Regions from separate parts of the Homo sapiens genome. Here all the other regions are linked to region 2. The links come from fine-mapping of genetic effects on gene expression. A gene starts in region 2. Each other region holds a variant in brackets. All regions are shown on one strand. Distances are from middle to middle.

The links. PIP is the estimated chance that this variant, and not a neighbour inherited with it, causes the effect.
Region 1: its variant is fine-mapped to the expression of COMMD9 in whole blood (TOPMed, PIP above 0.99).
Region 3: its variant is fine-mapped to the expression of COMMD9 in whole blood (INTERVAL, PIP above 0.99).

The regions. Positions count from the first base shown.
Region 1 is chr11:36,262,159-36,270,344 of GRCh38, forward strand. No RefSeq gene overlaps it. Among named protein-coding and RNA genes, the nearest start is that of COMMD9, 23 kb to the right of the region's middle. The variant C/T (reference allele first, on the strand shown) is at 4,865.
Region 2 is chr11:36,285,556-36,293,719 of GRCh38, forward strand. COMMD9 (COMM domain containing 9) reads right to left here and starts at 3,869. Exons shown (of 6, transcript NM_014186.4): 1 at 3,807-3,869. The coding sequence starts at 3,857. RefSeq lists enhancers at 3,231-3,933, 3,770-4,019.
Region 3 is chr11:36,187,796-36,195,981 of GRCh38, forward strand. All of the region lies in intron 4 of LDLRAD3 (low density lipoprotein receptor class A domain containing 3), which reads left to right. Among named protein-coding and RNA genes, the nearest start is that of COMMD9, 98 kb to the right of the region's middle. The variant A/G (reference allele first, on the strand shown) is at 4,385.

The DNA.
Region 1 (8,186 bases), 23 kb before region 2:
TGAGCACAGTGGCTCACGCCTATAATCCCAGCACTTTAGGAGGCTGAGGCAGGAGGGTTGCTTGAGCCCAGGAGTTTGCAACCAGCCTGGGCAACAAAGCAAGACTGCATCTGTACTTTTTTTTTTTTTTAATCAGGTGGGCTGTTGTGGTGTGTGATACTTGGCAGGCTGAGGTGGGAGGACTGCTTGAGCCCAGGTGGTTGAGTCTGCAGTGAACCCAGATTACACCATACTCCAGCCTGGGCAACAGAGCGAGACCCTGCCTCAAAAAAAAAAAAAAAAAAAAAAAAAGAAAAGAAAAGAAAAGAAAGAAAGAAAAAAAAAAGAAAAAGAAAAGAAAAGAAACCCTATCTAGACACAGAGCCATTGCAAAGAGCCAGCAAATATGTTTGATCTGTCAGATATGTTTAGCAGTGGAGGGAGCAAAACTGAGGCTGGGCCAGTAGGACATGTACACTGGGGGCGGCTGAAGGCTCAGTTGAGGTCTGAGGAGGGCAGACGAGTGGGGCAAATAGCCCTGCCCCTGCCATCCATAGATGCTTCTCATTGAGAGGGACCATGGCCTGGGGGGCTTTCTTGTGATCTCGATGACACTCAGCAGTGACATGAGTGGGACGGGGTTTCCGGTCCCCGTGGCATGTGCTTCCCCCCAACCTTTCACCAAGGACCTACCATGTGCCAAAGACTAAGCACTGGGGATAGAAGGTGAACGAGACCGGTGTGGCCCCCCGCCCTGCTCTTGGACCTGCCAATCTCCAGGGTTTGTTTTCTTGAGACTCCTGACGCTGCCTGGCCCGAGTCAGCACTAGGGATTCCTGATCTCTGCATATCCCTTCCCAGCCATCCAAGACAGCAAGAGCTGTTGCTTCTCTTCTCAAATTTCTCCCTTGGCTTCTTGATTGAGAGTTTCATCCCAGCTATGGTTTAAAAAACAAACAGCAAACAAACAAACAAACTAACCACACACTCAAACAAACCTCAGACTGCACAATGGAAGCACTGCCTGGAATCATAAAGATCATTTGTTCAATGTCCCTTTTTCTCACTGCCAGGCCAGTGCTCTCGTCTGCACCATGGAACCCATTATGACTTGAACCTTTCCAGATTGATTCCCCATAAACCTAATGAAGACATTGGAAAGGTGAGCTGAGGTAAGGTCGTGAAGAAACTCTAATGGAGCCCTATGGAGTTTGGAGTTTTGACAGCATACTGGGGACAATGGGAAGCCATTGACAGAGAAAAGCAGGACAGTGCCATGATGCATCTTCCATTCATTTATTACATTCAGTTAGCAAATATTTATTGAGCAGGTACTCCGTGCCAGGCTATGGGGATATAACATCGAACAAGATAGACAAGTTGCTCATCTTCATGTCTCCAGTGGGGAGACAGACAACGACCATGGTAAATAAATGAGAATGCACATCAGTTCACTGAATTAATAAGACTTTCCATGGCGTGGAGTGGTGGGGGGCAAGAAATGAACAGGATGCTGTGATTCAGAATAAAAGAAGGAATCCTCTTTAGAGAGCATAGCTTGAGAAACTTTCTCTAAGATAGTGATCTTTTAGATAAGTATTAAAAAAATGGGAAGAACCCAGTCTTTTCAAGAGCAGGGGAAAGAGTGTTACAGTTTGGAGCAGGGCGAGGGGTGGGTGGGGGATGCAGTGAGTGCACAGGCATTGCGGCTGGAAAGACTTTGGAGGACTCTTGGAACTGAAGGAAGGTTGGTGTGAATGGAGTGCTGAGGAAAGTGTTATGAGCTCAGGAGGCAGAGGGTGTCAGATGTCATCATGCTTAGAGGCTACCATAGGTGAGAAATGACAGAGTCATTAACCAAGGTGGTGCAGAGATGGAGAGAAATGGACCAATGTGAGTATATTTTGGAGAGAGAACCAGCAAGTCTTGCTAATGGATTAAATGGGAGGAAGGTGGGTATAGCAGCAGGCAGAGAAGGAGGCAGTGATGTTTCCCACGTCTCTGGTTGGAGCTGTTGTTTACTAAGATGGAGAAGCCCGGGAAGGTGGGACCAGGTTTAGCGAGTAAAACCAGATCAAGTTTACTTTCTGGAAAGCACTGGGAAGGCTGGACTTGGGGAGGACAAGGCCAGTGCAGGGTGCCCTTTGGAGGCTAATCCAGTATTCCAGGTGAGAGATCATGATGAGGATGGGCTAAGGTTGTGAAGGGGGATGAAGGGATACCCATGTCTCTGCTAAACAAGCAAAGAGAAGAGTTTCCCACTGCTTCAGACGCTATGAATTTCATTTTGTGAGATGGCTCAACAGACCAACCAGAGGGAGGAGTTCTTTTTGGGTAAGGTTGAAATGAAACCAACATGTGGAGAGGAGTGGAGGCGAATGATGTGGAAAATGGGGTCACGAGAGAGACCAGGCAGAGACTGCAGCAATGCAGTGTCTTCCACAGCTGGCTGTTTGACATGGGAGAGAGGAGTCTGGATTCACCATCTGTGCCAGGGAGAAATCCATCCTGGGAAACAGATGGTCAGCAGTCATGCCCATGCACCCTGGATGACCACGGGGGTTCCCTGGGGCTCTGCAGCCCGGGTGATTTTCTTGGGAGGTTTGGGACAAGCATTCAGAGGCTGTGGGCATAGCAGGCTCTAGGATTTCTGCTCTTGATGTCACTGTTACCCAGACCCCTAGAGCTGGGTCCCAGATGGTGCAGCTGAGACGAGCTCTCTTCTCCTTAGCCTCACTGTCCTCCAGCAGTGCCCCTTCCAGCCTCTGAGGTTAGCAAAAGGCAGTGGCTGGTGGCACTGACTGAGTGACCACTCAGTCAACCCTAGTCCCAGTCAGGATAGCCATTTTTTTCATTCATTTGTTCATTCATTCCTACATGCATTCAACAAATCCTGACTGAGTATCTGTAACTACAGGCACTGTCCCAGGCCCTGCCCTTGAGAAAACGCAGATCGAGAATTGGACAATGCGGGCTACCAAGCCCTCTCATTCCCTTCTTCCTCATCCTGTCACTGCTTCTGGCCTTGAGGCCCAGAGCTGACCCGAATCATCACCCAGGACCCATTCCAGCCCCTGGCCCTGGCACTGCTGATTCTGATTTAAGTCCATTTCTTAATTTTATTTCATGAGACTAAAATGTCGTCAGAAATCAGGTTGTAAAGGACACTGAATAATATTTTTCTGAGTTTGGGCTTTATTCTGAGTATTTTAGGCAGGAGAGTGACATCAGATTTCCATTTGCAAGACACCTGCAGCAATGAGGAGGAAGGATGGGAGGCGGGGTGAGAGGGATGGCACGATGGGAGGCAGGGAACCAGTTTGGAGGCCTTTGGACTCGTCCAGATGAGAGGTGACAAGGACTCCTTGCCATGTCCCCCCATCCCCAACCCCATCACATCAAACCTACTCTCAGAAAAGAACTGATGAGTCCTCTGATGTGTGGAAGGGCTCACCCCAGTGGAGGCACCTGTGTACATATTTGAAGTTAAACCAACACTGGGCATCTTTTATTTCTCAGACACCTTCATGTACAATGAATCCCCTCCAAGCTGCATTGCCAGGAAAAAGTACTTTCCATCTCTCCCTTTTAGAGATGAGAAACTGAGACTTAGCTCTAAGCAGACCTAAATTTGAATCCTGGCTCCACCACCTGTCCAGGTGTAGAAAGTTCCACTGTGGACTGACTGTGGGACTTGCATGGTTGCCATGAGCAAAACCTGATCTGGAAGAGTTGTATCTAATGGGCCCTAATGGTGGCATTTCAGAAGCACCGAGGAGACCCTGGGGGCTTCTGCAGCTGGGTCTGGGGAGCAGGGTTGAATGGGTGCCCTGGGTGGGCCTGCGCTGCCTGCTCTGTCTTCTGCCTTCTCTGCCTATGTTGCCCAGGGCCTGAGCAGGAGAGTTCTGTTAGGTGAAGGGTCTGGGCCTGAGGTTTTCTTTTGCAGGAAGCGTCTCCCCTTGCGGGGTTCTAGGAGAGGCCTGCCCACTACCCCACCTTCCCTCAGCTTCCCTGGTCTTTGTTCCGATTTTAGGCCAGGGTGGGAAGATAAGGAGGACGACTGCGCCATCTGCTGGGCATCTTGGGCAAGCTCCAGCTGCGCCCAGGTGAGGTTTGGCTTTTGCGCATGAGAACCTTGGGTCACCAAACAGGGTATGGCCCCTTGACCAATAATGTCTTTTATAGAAGTAGCCCCAGGGATACACTTCCAGTTCAGCTGGTGCCAGGAAACTCTCGGTACCCACAGAAGCTGCCCATTATCTGTGCGCTCAGGTGTGGGGAACAGAAAGGTGAACAGTGTGTGGGGGAAGGCACAGACACAGACCATTAAAATGCAGTGTGCTGAGGAATGATGGAGAAAACGCAGGTGGGGAAGACAGGCCAGTTAATTTGACTTCCTGGGCCCCTGTTAGGTGCTGCTCCTGAATCCAGAAGGATGAATAGGAATTAGGCCAGGATTAAGGGAAGGCATTCCAGAGAGAGGGCATGGCGGGGCAAAGCCCTGGTGACCATGCTGCCACCTCTGCTCAGGCCCAGGGCTAGTGCCTCTTTCCTGCCCTCCTCCAGCAGTTGGAGACTTTGCTGACCCCTTGGAAGTGCTGGTCCCTGAACTCTACAGTGGCAGGAGCTCAGAAGATCCACGTCTGCCCCTCCACTTACCACCTCAGCAGCAGCTCCTTCCTACCCTCATCCAGAGTTCCCAATCCCTACCTCTTCCTACCCAAGCCAAATAGTGTGGCTGGGAGACTGCTATGAACAAATCTCCCACGCTCACAGACTCAAAACCAATAAAGGCCAGAAATCAATGCTGGAGAATGAAAGCAAGCTGGAGAATGATGAAATCACCTAGTTGGTGAATTAGGGCCCAGCTGAGGTCGATTTAGGA[C/T]GAGCAATTCAAGTGAGCGTGAATTCTGTCAGTCTGCCATTCTATTGCATTCAATCTAATTCAGGCATGGTTTACTACACAGGTCAAATCCTGTGAGTTTGTGGAAGAAGTGGGATGCAAAGGGACATTTATGGGGCAATCTACTGTGCGCCAGTCACAGTGGAAGATATCATGGATACCGAGTGAATGAGACATGGTCTCTGTCCTCAAGAAGCACCCACATCACCACCTGCTCCTCCCCACCACTGCATAGTTCCTTTCTGTTCTTTTCTCTTCCTGCAGAAAAGCTGCTTCCAGGAAAGCAACTGATAAATTAAGCCACACTGAGCTGTAGTCAGCTGAGTGGGTGTTTATGACCGTACCTGTGAATTGTCTCTCACTATCTGCTCTATTTCAGTAAAATACAGAAACCCACTAGCTCATTCTCCTGCCCTCCCCCACCCCAATGTGTTAGCTACACACAAGACCACCCAGCAGAGACTGTATTTCCCAACCTATCTTGCAGCTAAGTATAGATCATGTGATTGAGGCCAGTGGGATATGAGTGAAAATAACGTGGCAACTTCTGGGGTATACCCTCCTCCTCCTCATCCTCTTCCCCTTCCCTCTTTCCCATGGCTGGGATATAGACTTGGAGGGTGATGGGGCACAGGCTTTGCTCACAGCAATGAGGGCAATACTTGGTGGCTGGTGAAACAAGATGGAAGGATTCTGAGTCTATAAACCAGAGCAGAACGATCCTACCCACTCAAAGCCCCTACCAGCTCAGACTTTTACATAGAGAGAAACTTCTAAATTCTTTAATCCATGGAAACTGGGTTTTTGTTAAAGCAGCCAAATCAATATCCTAATACAGTGACTCTTGCTCCCTGATGTTTAATAAGCAAATAAGCAAAAATATCTTGAGTAAGAGCTTTATCAGAGTTCCTGAAATTCTAAGCAGAGGCCATCCCCTGAGCTGGGGATCCAGCATGTGTATAACAATGACCCCATGCCCTCTGATATCCCAGAGCATCTCTCAAATCCTTTATCATTCAGTTTGTTGGGACAGTATTGTATTTTACTGTGTGGTATGTGTGTTAGGTCATATGGCTAGTTCAACATTGATAACAATAGCCAAGAAAGTTCCATTCTTCAGCCTGTGGGTCTATGCAGTTTACTGTAAATTTATGAGATGCATTACTTAAGTAGTTATCATCTCTACTTACAGATGAGACCTAAAAGCCCATTAGAGACTTTCCCAAGGACCTGAGGCTAATAGAAACTCAGCCTCTCAGACTAACCTTCAAGAGCTCTTGACACTTCCCCAAATAAAGAACCATTCCCTCTCCTTAGAGTTTAGGGTCCTCTGACACCAACCAGGGAATACTACTAGAAAATCTTTTTTATTTTTTCTTTCTTAAAGTACTTGTAAAAAGGACGATTAAATCACAGAAATGTGAGCACCAAAGAAAGAAGGAAGTTGTGCAAAGGTCAACATTATGCTGGTAAGAGAATGTTTAGGAACGATCAGTATTTGGAAGCCAACAGGCACAGGTTCACAATTGTTCTTGTAAATGTTCAACCACTGGAAAACTTTCAAAATGCCAGGTAGCCAATGGCTTCCAGATTAAAATATTAAAACAAATAATAATTTTTTTAAAAATTGTCACTTCTGATAACATCTCAGCTTACTGAACAAAGTAACGGAGAGCCTCTCGCACCACGCTGGACTCGTTTCCTGGAAATTTGTAAATACCAGACCACAGAGCTTGACTAATGACTATTGGACATGGTGCCCACTGTGTGTGTTCAGAGAATTGGCTTGTGTGGGAAGAACCCAAATGTCTGGTCCTCGTGCCAATTTGTCTTTGGACCTAAAAATCACCAGAAAAGGGAGGCAAAGGAAAATGACCATGATCCAGATGGAGATGGTAAGGCAGGACTGATGACGGAGTGAGCCAAAAGTTGCCAAATTAAGGGGAAATTTAGGCGATCTGCAAAGAATCATGAGTTTTCTCTTCCCCAGATTGAGGCAGGAATGGAGAAAACACTGGCTTTTGAGTTGAAAGCCCCAGACACAAGTTCCAGCTCAGCCCCAGACTACTCTGAGCTGACTTGTCCTCAGTAAAATGCACAAATACTTGTGAATGGATGCTCCAATAACCTCAGAAGGTTTGTGTGAAGAGGTAAGATGATATCTAAGAAAATGTTTCAAGTTCTCTCATGTGCCACACAGGTGAGGAGATTTATCATTATATCATGAGAAAAAAAGCTGAAATGGGGTGTTGGGGCATGTATTATTACAATTCTTTTTTATTTTTATTTTGAGACAGAGTCTCACTCTGTCACCTAGGCTGGAGAGCAGTGGTGCGATCTCAGCTCACTGCCACCTCAGTCAAGCTCAAGAAGTCCTCCCACCTCAGCCTCCTGAATAGCTGGGACTACAGGCATACACCAGCATGCCCAGCTGATATTTGTATTTTATGTAGCGACAGAGTTTCACCATCTTGCCCAGGCCAGTCTCAAACGCTTGGCCTCAAGTGATCTGCCCGCCTTGGCCTCCCAAAGTGCTAGGATTGCAGGCGCAAGCCACTGCACCTGGCCACAATTCTTTTGAACAATTCTTCTTCCTTTTGCTTAAGCAAAAGAGGAATCTTTTGGTTCCAATGACAGGTGTCAGTAGTCATCAGAACTAATCACAAATATCCCACTTCTCTTCCATCCTGGCACATGGTAGGATTCAGCTTCTCTGCCCTTTCATGGTTAGGTGTGCCCATATGATTTGACTGTTACTTCTGGGCAGGAGCTTTAAGATCACAGGTGCAATTTGCCATAGTCCCTTTCCCTGCCTTGGTGATTGTGGAGGCATGTGTTGAGATGAAGCTTCCATCATCCTGGGCCCTTAGTGATTACAGTGAGCAGACTACCCGCCCTCCTCCTCCAACCTGCAGTGAATGTGCAGCATTGGCAAAGAAACTTTAGTTGTGTAAAAAGCCACTACAACCTTGGGATTGTTTGTTACTGCAGCATAACCTTGTATTGAGTATATGTTCTTATTTTCTGTATTCTTCATGCGCTAACATTTGGGTCCTTGATCCAAAGAGGTCACCCCATTCAGGGCTAGCAAATTCCTAGAGAGAGAGAGAGAGAGAGAGAGAGACACACGGGTCGGGGGCGGGGTGGCAAACAATTCTCCTGGGAGCGTGCCTTTGATGTACAAACCAGCTAATCTGGAGCCCACACTCCCAACCATCTTCTTCTTTTTAAAACCAAACTCTCACACACCAAGCCAATATTCTCTCTGCCCTAAGTCACCCTAGGGTCAGACAACTCGGGACCA
Region 2 (8,164 bases):
CAGAAAAATGAGAAAACTACAGACCAATATCCCTCATAAAAATAGATGCGAAAATTCTTAGAAAATAATGGCAAATAGAGATCAGTTATATATATGTATAATATTTTATTAGCAAATAGAGACATATAATTATATATAATTATACAATATGACCAGGTGGGATTTATTCCACAGATGCAAGGCTGGTTCAGTATTTGCAAATCTATGTAATCCATCACATTAACAAAGAAAATCACATGATATAAATCAATGCAGAGAAAGCATTTGATAAAATTAAACATCCATTATTGATAAAAGCCCTGAGAAAAATAGGAATAGAAGAGAACTTCCTTATCTTGATAAACAGTATCTACAAAAAACCTACAGTGAACATTATACTTAATGGTGAAAGACTGAATGCTTTGCCCCCAAAACTGAGAACAAGGCAAGATATCTGCTTTCTCCACTCTGAATCAACACAGTGCTGAAAATTCTAGCCACTAAAATAAGGCAAGGAAAGGAAATAAAATGTGTGCAGATCAGAAAGGAAGAAATAAAACTGTCTCTATTTGTAAATAACATGATTTTCCATGTAGAACATTCCAAGAAATATACCAAAAACTCCTAGAAACAATGAGTTTAGCAAGTTTGCATGTAGAAGATAAACATACATAAATCAGTTGTATTTCTATTTATTAACAATGAACATGTGGACACTAAAATTAAAAATACGGGCTGGGCATGGTGGCTCACATCTATAATCCCAGCACTTTGGGAGGCCAAGGCTGGTGGATCACTTGTGGCCAGGAGTTCAAGACCAGCCTGGCCAACGTGGGGAAACCCTGTCTCTACTAAAAATACAAAAAAAAAAAAAAAAAAGAAAGAAAGAAAGAAAGAAAGAAAAGAAAAAAAAAATCAGCCTGGAGGGGTGGTGGGCACCTGTAGTCCTAGCTACTTGGTAGACTGAGGCATGAGAATCCCTTGAACCCAGGAGGTGGAAGTTGCAGTGAGCTGAGATCATGCCACTGAACTGTAGCCTGGGCCACAGAGCGAGACTCTCTCAAAACAAACAAACAAACAAACAAACCAAAAAAAACCAAAACCATTTGCAATTGCTCAAAAAATGAAATACAGGATGTGCATGCTGAAAACTACACAGTACAACACTGTTGGACAATCATTACATGGAATACCACTCAGCAATAAAAAGGAAAGAACTATTGATACACACAACATGGATGAAAATTAGGCTGAGTGAAAAAAGTCAATCTCAGAAGGTTACTTACTGTATTATTCCATTTATACGGCATTCTTGAAATGACAAAATTAGAGAAATGAATAACGCCAAAGGTTAAGGAGAGTGTGGCTATTCATGAGGAATCTTTGTGGTGGTGGAAATGTTTTGTATTTTGACTGTCAATATCAATACTTTTGACATTAGGTATTGACATCCATTTATCCTTTACCCAATTTCCCCTATGCAGAACCATACATAATAGTAAGTATGCTATATATGTATACTACATACTATGTATATCGCGTAGTATGTATACTACATACTATGTATATCGCGTAGTATGTATACTACATACTATGTATATCGCGTAGTATGTATACTACATACTATGTATATCGCGTAGTATGTATACTACATACTATGTATATCGCGTAGTATGTATACTACATACTATGTATATCGCGTAGTATGTATACTACATACTATGTATATCGCGTAGTATGTATACTACATACTATGTATATCGCGTAGTATGTATACTACATACTATGTATATCGCGTAGTATGTATACTACATACTATGTATATCGCGTAGTATGTATACTACATACTATGTATATCGCGTAGTATGTATACTACATACTATGTATATCGTGTAGTATGTATACTCTATATTATATACATACTATACATAATAGTATATATACTATATTATGTATAGTTCCGCAGAATCCTGCAGAACTGAGGGAAACTGAGTAAAGGATAAATGGGATCTCTCTATATTATTTCTTACAACTACATATGGATTTATAATTATCTCATAATAAAAAGTCTAAGTATTTTTTTAAAAAAAGAAAAGAAAGTACACAGGACAGTAGCAATGAAAATCAATGAACTACTGCTACATAATGGTGAGCAAAAGAAGCCAGGCATAAAAAAAAAGTATATGCTGTATTATTCCATTTATGTTAAGTTCAAACATGGGCAATATTAAATGAATTGTATCAGAAGCAAACATAGAGGTTACCATTGGGGAAGAAAGTGAGGAAGCAAAGAAAGGGCGAAAGGGGGACTTCTGGGGTACTGGTAACATTTCATTTTTTGACTTTGGTGGTGGTTACATTGGTGTGTAATAAATCATTTAACTGTAAATGTATGGTTTATGCACTTTTCTGTATGTATACTACACACTAATCTTTTAAAGTTTTTAAAAGAAAAGAGTGCATAAGACCAACAGGTATAGGGGCGGGGGTAGGTACAGAGCAGCCAAAATGAAGGTGAAAAGGCACTGGGTTGGGAGCTGAGAGCCCTAGATTGCCAGTCCCAGCTCTGTTACTTCATTTATTAATTCATTTAACAGCTATTTACTGAGCACGTGCTGTGTGCCAGGTATTATTGTTCTACTTATTGGGCATTAACACTTGTGAACAAAAGAGTAGATCCCCTTAGGAGTGGAGAATGCTAATGAACACTGAGAAGGCAATTAAAAAATAAATAAGTAAAACAAAACAGAGACTATTACATGGACCGATGATGATGATGTGCCATAAATTGAGGAGAGTAACTCAACCCTCTTCACCTGGTGTTTAAAAAAAAAAAAAAAGAGAGAGGAAGAAAGGAAAGGTCCCTGATGGATCTTACATTCTTATGAGACAGACGGACAACGGGCAAATAGCTAGCGACAAGTTCTACGAAGGAAAATAAAGCTGCCCTTTCTCCTACAGGGCAAATCATAAGTTAAATAATTCCGGCCAGGCGCGGTGGCTCACGCCTGTAATCCCAACACTTTGGAAGGCGGAGGCGAGTGGATCACGCGGTCAGGAGTTCAAGACCAGCCTGGCCAAGATGTTGAAACCCCGTCTCTACTAAAAATACATAAATTTGCCAGGCTTGGTGGCGGGCGCCTGTAATCCCAGCTACTCGGAAGGCTGAGGCATAGAATTGCTTGAACTCGGGGGGCGGAGGTTGCAGTGAGCCGAGATTGCGCCACTGCTCTCCAGCCTGGACAACAGAGCTAGACTCCGTCTCAAATAATAATAATACTTCATTTGAGCTTTACAAAGCCCTATGAAGTAGGTCCCTTTCAACCTCACAACTTTTCAAATGATTATCAGGAGTATGTCCTGCCCCTTTCGCAGGTCAAAGAGAGTAGGGAAAATCTGGACCTCAAGGGAACATTGAACGCACAGGTCATTCGGAGGGCTGGGCAGACGCAGTAGGAGATAATTTCTTAATTGTGCAATGCAGGAGGGGCTACGGGATGAAATGGGGAACTGACAACGTGGGTCTAGCAATTACCACTTCAATGCACCAATACCGAAAACCAATCCCAAAGACTAATAGCAGGAGGTTGTACTGCGCCTTCATGCCCATTATTTTATTTTTTTTTATCTTACGTTCCTGTCAAAACGATATTTTGTTCTTACTTTTTAAAAGCTCAGAAAGACGCAACGATTTGCCTGGGATCACACAGAGAACAAGCAGCAGAGTTGTGGCTCCAAACCAGGGTCAATTTGTTCCCAATTCCTGCTCCGTCTAAAGTCTCGGAGACAAAGGGCCACCTCACGCTGTCCCCACCCCTTCGACTTACCTTGAGCAGGCTCTGGAGTGCTGCAAAATGCTCCGCTGTCAGGGCAGCCATCTTGCCGAAGTCACATGACCGTGGCACCCAGGGAAGCGAGGTCACGTGGCTGTCGCTGTTGTCGCGGGGCCTGCCGGGGGCTGTAGTCCTTCAGAGTGGGGGAAGGCGTTTCGGTTGTGGTGCTGCGGCAGTGAGCGCGGATCAAGACGGACGCGGCGGCTGGATGACTAAACCCCGAGACTCTAGAACCAAAGGACTAGGGGGACCAGGGCGGAGGATGGTTTACTCGGGGAGGAAATTGGCTTGACTTGTCTACTTACCAAGTCAGGGAAACAGGTTTTCCCTTGACCCATGTGGGTGGGCTGGCGCACTTGGGGAATGCACCTGCAAGCTTGGCAGGCGCCTTGGAAACGTAGTTGTTCAGGAGTGATCGGCGTACCAGTGTTTGGAATGAAAATGAGGCTGTGCATATCGGGCTTCTTGGAATTGACACACACACATGCACACATCCTGTCTTGAATGTAAAATTACTTCTGCGTATATAGTTTTTCAGCCTATGTAGTAGGTTGGAGCTGGTATTATTAGTATTATCCAGATTGGGAAATAATCATTTAGGGTTTTTAGTAACTTTCCCATAGTCATAGAGAAGATCTGATTACAAGAGCAGGTGAGGAAGTGTTTGGGAGAGGGGACAAGAGAGGAATGGAATGAAAGCTACTACCTAGCTAGGTTCTTGTTATACGGGGGTGAGATGGGGGAGGAGGTTAATGGAAATGATTTAGTTCATTTATTCAAAAAGGTAATTATAATGAATATAATTGTAAAGAGTGATTTTGCACTGGCAGTACTGGACTCTGATTTGCCCTGTTCTCAGAGACCGTACATCAAAACAGACATTTCCTTTATCTACCTTTAGTATTTGGGTGGCTCTTTTCTTTTCCTACCCTCCACTTTTTTTTAAGCAAATTCCAGCTCAAAAAATGGGTTCTGATATATTCGAGCTTAAGAAAGAATGCCCATTTGTGAAATTCCAGAAATTGGTAAGCTGCTAAGGACATTTGTTCCTTTGTCTCCTCTCCTCCCCCTTCCCCTTCCCCGACTCCATTTTCTGTGGGGATGTTGTCAAGGCCCAGGAAACCAAAAATCAAATTGTCTAAGGAGGAACCCATTCCTGGATTAGAAGATTTTAGAACCATTTTGTCACAGGGTCCTGATTCTAGCTCTCTTTCTTGGCCTCTCTTTTCCATGAACCCTCATGGCCTGATTCCTGGTTTCTGTTATAACTCAATGTAGGTTCTAGGTTTAACTCCTGCCTGTATCTATAGGGCTGGGCCCATTGTCTTGGGTTAATTGAATATTTGTTAAATAAACAACCACCCAAAAAAGTGATTAGACTAAGATGAAATTTTGTGACTTATTTGAGGATATTGCCTTGGTATTTGCAGGATTGTGCCTTCTTGTCTTACTTTAGAGTAATGAGGAGTGTGGTCACCAGCCTTCAAGATGGCCCTCAATGATCCCAGCCTCCTGGTGTTCACAACCTAGTGTAGACACCTCCCACCATGTACCAGGATTGGTATGCATGACCAATAGCAAATGGTGGGTGTGAATGGCATATCACTTCTGAGATTAGGTTATACAAGACTGCACCAAAAAACTAACAAAAAGACTGAAGTTCCTGTCTCCTGGCTTGGGTGCTCTCTCATGTGCCCTGCTCTCTTTCACTTGAATCCTTTGCTCTGGGGAAAGCAAACTGCCATGTTGTAAACAGTCCTACAGAGAGGCCTAGGTGACAAGGAACTGAAGCATCTGGCCAACAACTTCATTACTGACCTGAGAAGCAGATTGTCTAGGCCCAGTAGAGCCTTAAGAAGGCAGGAGTCTTGGCCAACAGCTTAACTGCAACCTCATGAGAGATTCTGAGCCAGCACCACCCAGCGAAGCCACGCCTGGATTTCTGGCCTTCAAACACTATTAAGATTATCAATGTTTGTTGTTTTAAGCTATGAAGCTTTGAAGTAATTTGTTATACAGCAATAGTAACTAATGCATGGTGGCAGCAAAGCATAGGGGTTTTAGAATTCAACCTGAGTTGGAATCCTAATTCTACACATTATTAACTTTTCCGTGTACAAATTCTTGAACTTCTCTGGGCCTCAGTTTCCACCTCTGTAAAATGGTGTTCATCACACCCATCTAGTTCAGAGAGCAGAGCTGAGCGACAGGAGCTGCTTCAGTGGGAGGATTCCCAGCTCTCCTTACTCTCGCGGGCTGGTATGATATGAATGGCACCATGTCATCCCATTTTGGTAGGGCTGCCCAGATTGCCAATGCCATGTTGCATGTAAAGGTTTGTCTGTGGTCTGCAGAATGTCCAGCAATTTCTAAACCATAAACATTTTCATGGGTGGGAACAAAACAGAATGTCGGAGTTCATTTCTGTGATTTGGTCCCATTGCCTGGTTTTCATTAGGCCAAACCTAATTTCTTTCCAATTCTGAATATAGGAATCAGTGCTGACTTTCATTTATTTAATAAACTTGTTATGTGCCCGGCTCTGTTCTAAGCCCTTACATTTACTGATTAATTTACTTCCCATTCCTATCCTATGATATTATATATATACGTATGTATATACATACACACACATATGTACACACACACATAAGTACATATACATATATAAGCACACACACTGTATTGTTTCCATTTTACATATGGAGAAACAGACATAGGCAGATTAAGTAGTCTGAGGTCACACAGCTAAGTAGTGGCAAAGCCCAGATTCAAATATGGCCAGTCTGGCTCCAGATTCTGCACTGTTAACCGCCAAGCTGTACATGTCTCCTTGTTGTCCCACAGCTGTAAATTTGTGTTTCTTCTCTTTGCATGTCTGACTACCTTCCTCAGGCAGCAAGAACAATCTAAGAGTGTTCCTGTACAATCAGTCTGGTGATGGTGAGAAACAATATAATGAGTGAGTGGAAGGGCTACCTTGGGCTTTGGGAAAAGACCTAGGTTCAGTTTCCAACTCCTGTGTACTGTTAGCAAATTACTTCCCCTCTTGGAACCTCAATTTCATCATCCGTAAAATGGGAACAATAATAAAAATACCTTTTGGCCATTAGGGGGAGCTCAAGGATGACTTATACCCCAAAAGGGGAAGGATTGCTTATGTGGATTCTCAGTTCTAGTCATTGGCAACGCTAAAGGGCAGAGCTTTCCCCTGTTGTGGGCAAGGGTTTGCACGAGGGGGACTGGCCATCCCAGTTTTCCCAGGGATGAGGGGTTTCCTTGGATGCAGGACTTTCAGGGCTAGCGCTGGGACAGTTCTGGACAAACCAGGCCAGTTAGTCACCCAAGTTTGAGCCCTGAGCCTTGGGGGAAACCAGCCTTTTGGAACACTTGCCCTGATTTCTCCAGTGGGGCAGATATGAAGCAAGGGATATGGACACAGAATTTATTAGTAGAAAATGATTAAGGGCAGCAATCTTAGTATTGAGGGTTTTTTTATAGTAGCTTTATTGAAATAGAATTAACATTCACATACCATACAATTTATCCATTTGAAGTGTAAAATTCGATGAATTTTAGTATACTCACAGAGTTGTCCAACTATCACCACAATTAATTTTAGAACATGTTCATCATCCCCAAAAGAAACAGCATATCCTTTAGCTATCAACACCCACCTCTGCCCCCAATTCTCCCCATCACACCCAGCCCTAGGCAATCGCTAATCTGCTTTCTGTCTCTATGGTTTTGCCTTCTGGACATTTCCCATGAATTGGATCATATGATACGGTTTCTCCTCTTATACTAAGTAAAGGAAACGAGTACAAAAGACCACATATCATATGTTTTGTACTCGTTTCCTCTACTTAGCATAAGAGGAGAAACTTCTTCAAGGTTCGTTCATGTTATAGCCTGTATCGGTACTTCATTCGTTTTTTGCTGAATAATATTTTTTTGTACAGATATACCATAGTTTGTTCATTCATCAGTTGTAGACATTTGAGTTGTTTCTACTTTTTAGCTGTTGTGAGTAATGCTGCCATGAGCAATCATGTACAAAGTTTTTGTGTGAACATGTGTTTCATTTCTCTTGGAGTATACACTGAAGAGTGGAATAGTGGAGTTTCTGGGCCATATGATTACTCTGTGTTTAACCTTTTGAGGAAGTGTAAGACCATTTTCCAAAGTGACTGCACCATTTTACAGTCCCCAGAAGCAATGTATAAGGGTTTCAATTTCTCCACATCTGCACCAACATTTGTTTAAAAAAAAAAAGAGACAGAGAGATGGGGGTCTCTGCTCTTTTACCCAGGCTGGAGTACAGTGGTGTAATCATGGCTCACTGTAGCCTC
Region 3 (8,186 bases), 98 kb before region 2:
CCACAAGGATGATTTATATGATTACTGGAGACAAGCCTCTGTCTCCTGAAGACAGGCCAAGATAACGTTAGATTGAATTTCAAGAGATGAAAGTGAGGTTTTTAAGTAATAGCAAAGCCTTGTGTTTCTGTAGTACTTTGTGCTTTTTGAAGTGCTTTCACAGTCATTATCCTGTTTGATCCTACTAAGAACCCTGAAAGTACATAGGTTGGTGGTTTTTATCCTGAGACTACAAATGATACCAAGGATAACGATGAGTAGGAATCAGAGCTAGAATTAACCCCTATTTTCTTACTATTGACCCAGCATGCTTTCTATGTTGAAAAGTGCACCACATCGAGAAGAGATTGGTCACCGCAGCACAGGGCACGCAGAATTCCATTAGTATCACTTACCTGGGAAGTCCAGGTGCCTTCAATAGTTGAGGGGAGTAAATGATATGACTACCTACCTTCAAAACTTGTAGTTTAAAGTGGTAACTTGAATACTCACATTTACCTCTGTTTCCTTCCTCTAAAAGAATGGTTTTTTAAAGGGTAAATCCACAGGGACAAAGAAAAGGAGAGGAAAACCAGCAAAAAAAAAAAAAAAAAAAAAAAAAAAATTGTGGAAGCTGGAGAACAAATGGGTGAGCTATGACTGGATTAGTGAACTCAGAAAATGGAATTCTAAGCTGGCACTCAGGAGAACCAAGAGGCAACCAGATATACTTCCAGAAGGCCTGGGAATTGGCAACTTGAGATAACTCTGGAAACAGAAGAGATGGGCTAAAAATGGGAAGATTAGTTGAAATTTCGTTAGGAAGCTATGACACTTTCATATTCCTTCCCTATGCTACACAGCCTAGCGACTGCCCCTCTCACACCCAGGCAGAAGACTGGAGCTTACTCTCTGCTGAGGGTAGAACAGGTCTCTGGAATACCAGATATGAAGCACAGCTGAGAATGGGGGTCCGTTTCTGAAAACAGGGATTTAGCATAAGTCAACATAATGAACATTGAAACTACTAGCCCTTTTCCTCAAGTCAGGTCCCAGAACACAGCCAGCCAGGCTCATATTCCTTCTAAGCAGGAGTTTATAAAAGTCTTCTTTGGGAAAACTCACCAGTTTAAGAGATTGGATGTCAATGAAGTGGCGCAACTGAATCATCTAATGGTGAAGCCCACAACCAAGAGCTTTTTTTTTTTTTCCATTTTTTAAAATAAAAGCTTTATTAAGACATTCACATAGCATGCTTTCACTCATTGAAATTGTACAATTTGGGTTTTTCATAGAATTTGCAACCATCATCACATTAAACATATTTATAGAATTTGCAACCATCACTGCATTGTCTACTTGCAGAATTTGCAAGCATCATCACTATAAACTTCAGAACATTTTTATCACCTCAAAAAGAAAACCCCTAGGCTGGATGCAGTGGCTCACACCTGTAATCCCAACACTTTGGGAGGCTGAGGTGAGTGAATCACTTGAGGTGAGGAGTTCAAGACCAGCCTGGCCAACATGGTGAAACCCCGTCTCTACTAAAAATACAAAAATTAGCTGGGCGTGGTGGCACACATGTGATCCCAGCTACATGAGAGGCTGAGGCAGGAGAATTGCTTGAACCCGAGAGGCGGAGGTTGCAGTGAGCCGAGATTGTGCCACTGCACTCCAGCTTGGGTGACAGAGCGAGACTCCATCTCAAAAAATGAAGAAGAAAAAAAAAACCCTTGTCCTTTAGCTATCACCCCCTGCACCCCCATCTACACCCTAGGCCTACGTAACCACGAATTTACTTTTTTTTTATTATTATTATACTTTAAGTTCTAGGGTACATGTGCACAACATGCAGGTTTGTTACATATGTATACATGTGCCATGTTGGTGTGCTGCACCCATTAACTCGTCATTTACATTAGGTATATCTCCTAATGCTTTCCCTCCCCCCTTCCCCCACCCCACAACAGGCCCCACTGTGTGATGTTCCATTTCCTGTGTCCAAATGTTCTCATTGTTCAGTTCCCACCTATGAGTGAGAACATGTGGTGTTTGGTTTTTTGTTCTTGCGATAGTTTGCTGAGAATGATGACTTCCAGCTTCATCCATGTCCCTACAAAGGACATGAACTCATCCTTTTTTATGGCTGCATAGTATTCCATGGTGTATATGTGCCACATAGCTTTTTAGTGTCCCACACTTAAAAATGAGTGTCAGCCAAGGATCACCAGACATTTGACACTTGACAGAAACCTTGAATATGAAAGACAGAACACTCACACATCTAGGGGGAGGGGGGAGGGGAGGAGGAGGAGAAAGAGGAGAAAAGCATTTTGGAGGGAAACAGGCTATATCAAGAGAAGGAAACTTAAAACAGAAAAACCTAAAAGATGACTGAAGATACAGAATCCTTGAAATAAAAATAAGATGCCTCCCCTCTTTTAAAGGACTAAACAGGAAAGGACTCATAGAAATTTAACTTGAAAAAGTTGGGATTGTTTAAGGTCAGGAAATCAAGACTAGTGTGGGCAACATAGTGAGACCCCATCTTCACAAACAATTTAAAAAATATATTAGTTGGGTGTGGCGGCACATGCCTGTAGTCCTAGCTACTCAGTTGGCTGAGGTGGGAGGATTGCTTGATCCCAGGAGTTAAAGTCTGCCGTGAGTTATGATTGCACCACTGCATTCCAGCCTGGGCAACAGAGTGAGACCTTGTCTCTAAAAAAACATAATAATGGAAAAAGTTAGGTCATAAATTTGAAGGTATATCCCAGAAGGTAGAAAAACACAAGGAAATTGAAAATAAGAAAAACTGAAGACCGGGTTAGGAGATATATATCCAAATCGTAGGAATTCTAGAGAGAAGAGAGAAAAAAAATGAGAAATTGAAGAAAATGCTCCCTGAACCAAAGAACAGTGGTTTTCAGACAGAAAAGAGCCCACCTAATGCTCAGATTGGTGAATGACAGTAAACCACACCAAACACATCATTATGAAATTTCAGAACATTGGGCAAAAAGAAGATCCTACAAGTTTCTAGAGAGGGCATTACAAAAATAAATACATAAATGAAAGTAAGTGTTTTTACAAAGGTTCAAGAATCAAAATGGTGTCAGTCTTCTCAATAACATTGGACATGAGAAGACAGTTCTGAAACAAATCGTTTCAACTCAAGTTCTGTACTATAAAGACATTTTCAGAAATGATTAAAAAGTTAGTCTCATACAGTCCTTTCAAGAAGCTGCTAATAAATACGGTCTACCAAAACCAAGGGAGTAAACCAAGAAAAAGAAAGACACAGGATATGGGAAATTGGGGATCCAACCTTAGAGAGTGAAAAGGAGCCTCTGGAATGACACTGAAGGGCCATCACAGGGTGGCGGCTGTGTATCAGGCCTGGGAGCCCTTTGTCCAGACAGTGGTGGATCCGAAGGTGTGGGGAGAGATTTCTATAGGAAGAACTTGATAGGCCAAGTAGTATGGTGGCTCACTCAGGCCTGTAATCCCAACACTTTGGGAGGCTGAGGAAAGAGGATCACTTGATGCCAGGAATACAAGACCAGCCTGAACAACATACTGAGACCCCATATCTACAGAAAAATTAAAAATTATTATAGCTGGGCGTGGTGGTGCTCGCTTACAATCCCAGCTACTCCAGAGGCTGAGATTGGAGGATTGCTTGAACCCAGGAGTTTGAGGCTGTGGTGAGCTATGAGCGCGCCACTGCACTCTAGCCTGGGTGACAGAGCAAGACCCTGTCTCTCTCTCTCTCTCTCTCTCTCTCTCTCTCTCTCTCTATATATATATATATATATATATACACACACACACACACACACACACGCACGCACGCACGCACAAAGAAGAAATTGATAGAATACTTAATGTATTTGAATTCGTTGAGAAGAGATTTATGAATCTGGGAAAGACTTTGTGTTTGAATTATTGAGAAATATATGGAATGCTAAACAAATGGGGAGGGGGAAACTTTTGTTTTCCCAGGAAGAAAAGTGTTCAAATCATAGTATACCTGTGTTGTTCATCTGTAGCATTTTCTTGATCAAGATAATAAAAACAGTGATTATCTGTAATTACTGTCTAACTAAGGGGCTTGAAAATGGGCATATGTGTGGCAGTGGCAGAGATGGTAATAAACTAGAACTAAATCCTCACCTTTTAGAGTGGGAAGACAATAGATAATTCCTCAAACTAAAGAATCACAAAGTAGCATACAAGCATGCTATTTAGAGATAAGGCAGTAAGCTTTCAAAAGAGCTAACCAAAATAGTAGAAAATGACTACTTCTGGAAGATGAGGGTCAAAGAATGCGATCGCTTTTATCAAGCCTCTTACAACTATTTGACTCTTTAAATTGTGTGCACATGTTACTTTGATAGAA[A/G]TAAAAGTGGAATTTCAAGAATGCGCTGGTAGGAACAATTGGTCTGTGACAGTACTTGCACTTTAAACGTGAGCTATCAAACAAAAACCTCTTTCAAGCATCTCTAGCCTCGCAACAGATGATCTGGGCATGCAGAAGACCACTGCACCCCCACTTGTCTCCCAATCTTGGATCCACCTTAATGATGGAAGCACAGATGCTGTGGGAACATTTCAGAAGCCTGTGACCTGACTTTTTTCTCTGCAGGTAACTGCAGGATGAGTGGTTTTTTGAAAAACCCAATTCTGAGCATTTTGGTCTACCACAAACTAGAGGAGAAGGCAGAAGTGCCATCTAAATGGGTTTGGGTCACACACAAAGCATCACAAGGCCGCTTTGTGGGGTAAGTTATAATGCTGCCCTGCTCTTCAAAGCAAAGCCACATGCATATATCTGGCATATGTGCAGGATAAGAATTCATTCTCTTTTTCTCTCACACTCCTAGGCAACCTGGATTAGGTCCAGGGCATGAATTGTGACACCTTCCATTACAAACTCCAAATGCAGAATGTGTTACCGGAGTTGTCTCCCTGGAACCTTTTAGGGTGAATGATGGAGACTCCTTTCCTGAGATGAGATCTTGCCACTTGCTCCCCGGCCAAACCAGCCAAAGCCTCAGGGGCCAAATGCACATGCTCGTGAGTATAGCAATTCAGAGCATGGACTTTGGAGCCAAACTCAACGGAGTTCAAATCTGGACCTTGCTACTTACTAGCTGGGTGCAACTCAGAGGAAGTTACTTCACTTCCCTGATCCTCCATTTTCTCTTCTGTAAAATGGGAATAATAGTAGTGTCTATGTTGTAACATTAAAGAAGACCTAGGATATGCTTTTAGCACCTATCATACATTAGCTATTAACTCAGTATTATATTTGCTGTATCATTGTGGGAAAATCACGGAATCTCTCCGAGCCCCAGTTTCCTCATCTGTAAAATGGGGGTAATGCTGCATCCTCGAGAGTGTTGGGAACATTCTGTGAGCCAATGTATACAAATTGCTTAGCCCAAAATATGGCAACTAGTGAGAGCTCAATTCATGAAGGTGATTATTACTTTCCTGCCTTTTCCTTTCCACAGCTTCTCTCCTAATTCAGGCCTACTTTCCTTTTGTCTGGCCACCAAAATAGCTTATCTGGCCACCCTGAGTCTCTCTCCCTCTTTCTGCTGTAGCTCATCCTGCATACAGTCGCCAGAACAATTTTACATCAACACGGCTTTTATCACTTCCCACACCTGCTGAGGAGCCCACTGCGGTTAGAAGATCGAAACACCCCAGCCTGTTATTTAAAGCTTTGCACGCTGAGATGTGTGCTTTGCATCTTTTCTGTCCAGCCAGTCACCTTATTCCTCATCTACCTTTGTGCCTACTGCCTCTGTGTGCTAGATGTTGTCGCATGCCCCTCCCAGCTCTCCTGTTAAGAGCACCACTTAGTTTTAATAATTGATTTGAAATGAAACCCACTTCTTTCAAAAATTCGCCCTGACACCTTTACCCTCCTCATTCCTTTATGCCTTGTCTTAGCAGCCTTTGGGGCTATAGCCAGCACTGGTCTCATGCAGCTTTGAGTAAATTTCCTTGTCCTGAAAAGCCACCGAGTGTAGTGGAAAGGGCTTGAGGCTTTGGAGGTCTGACAGATTTGGATTCAGATCTTAGCTCTGCCACTTACTAGCTGAGACATCTTGGGAATGTTATTTTACTTCTCAATGTTCTCACCAAATAGGAATTTATAAACTGGGAATACTGTCATTATTCCCAGTTTACAAATGGGGACATTGAGAGGTGAGATAACACATGAGATTATTATTACATAAAGTTCTTAGTATCACATCTGGCATTTAGCTGCTTACATATTACAGTTCCCTTCCCCTTGTTGTTTCATTTGTGCATGGTTTTTTGCTTTGCCAGAATACAGGCTCCTTAGGTGCAGGGCCCGGATGTTTTGTCTGTGTACCTTAGCCCCCTGAGTTGGTATATGCTAGGTGGTGCTTTGGTAACTTACAGGCCCAAGTCTCAGCAGTTTCAAACAATAGAGGTTTGTTTCCCACTTGCTTTGTAGGTCCATGATGGATTAGTAGGGCAGGCGTCTCTCATCTTAGTTACCCAGGGAGCTAGGCCACTCACATTTCACTGGCCAAAGCCCATCACCTAGCCAGATCAGAACTTCTAAGGGGCCAGGGAAGTGTAATCCTATTGTGTATCTGGAAGGAGAGAAATTCAGGAACATTTTCAACCACCTAGTGACCACCATATCCTCCAGGTCCTATCTCAGGTTTCCTGTGTGGAGATGTCTGTTGGCAAGCCTGGTGCCACCACTGGGCATATGGTTTACTCCCAGGACTTGGAGTCTTGGTGATTAGATACAGTCCTATTCTCCATGGGTTCATGGTTGCCCAACTGTAATTCACAATCTCTGCCAGAAACCCAGTGTGAATCCACTTGTCTTAGAACTCAACCATACCCCTACCAGTAAGGACACAATGAAGACAATAGCTTTGTCCCATCTGAAAAAATAAGCAATGTTCAGGGATTCCCAGTTCTCTAAAACTCTGTCATCCTTGACTCATTCATTCAGTCCACAATACTAGATTTGTGGAGATTTGCTGTGTGTCAAGCACAATTTTATTTACAACAATACGGTGATACTAAGACAGATGTGGTCCCTGCCTGTTCAGACCTGACAATTAGGCGGAGAAGGCAGTAGTCTAAAATAATTAACAGAATGGGCTCTGGAGTCAGACAGCTCATCACTGGGCTTGCATTTCTTCCAATCAACCTTGGGAAAGTTCCTAAACCTCTCTGTACCTCAGTCTTACCATGTGCAAAGTGGGAGTGAGGACCATACTTCTGTTATAGAGCTTTTTAAAAGAGGAAATGAGGTTGGTAATCCATATAGAACATTTCATAAAGACATCAGCTTCTAGAAAGCCCTTGGTAAATGTTAGCCACGGCTGCTATCATCATCTTCATCATCATCATTACCATCATTAGTAGTAACAGTAGGAGTATTTAGGATGAATAGTGGTAGGATGAGGAAGATGTTGAGCCAGCAGGGAAAGTTGTGCATTTTTCTAGAAGCATAGAAGCATCGTACTATGTTGGCATTGCACATAAGTCCATGAAAACCTATTTCTTATGGACCAGAAGCACACTGTGAACACCACCATTCTAGTTACACCTAACCACTGTTTATAACATTGTGCAGGGTCCAGCTCATCCCCTGTTATTGGCCATTTATGTTGTTCCAACTGATTCTCTGTTGTTGGCCCCTGAAGTCCCACCGTCTAATTCCTTTTGAACATTCAAGTAGCTTTTCATGATTAAGGCTCAGAGTATAGAAAGAACAGCTGAATAGGAATTGAACATTTTAAAATAGGGAGAAAGGACTCATAATTCTAAAAGCCAGACTAAAGGGCTGCAAAACAGCCCTTCGATGCATCAGACTTGTGCCTGTGTATATTTGTTCATGGCCTGACTTTGAGTCACTGTTCTTAAGGAAAAATATATTCTAAATCCCTCTGTGGCTCCCCTCCTCAGTCACCCAAGACACTTGACCCAGCAGTGACATGGTGAATTTGGCATTGAAGCAGGAAAGACAGGAGAGCCAGAGACATGCCACTGTTAATTCCCCATATGTGCATAAAATTCAGATACCTCTGGGTCTATATTTACTTGTGTTTAGCATCTGCACGTAAAGAAAGGGAAGTTACCCCCTGCTACCTCCCATCAGTCAAGCATCACCTGATTCAAGGACATACTAAGCC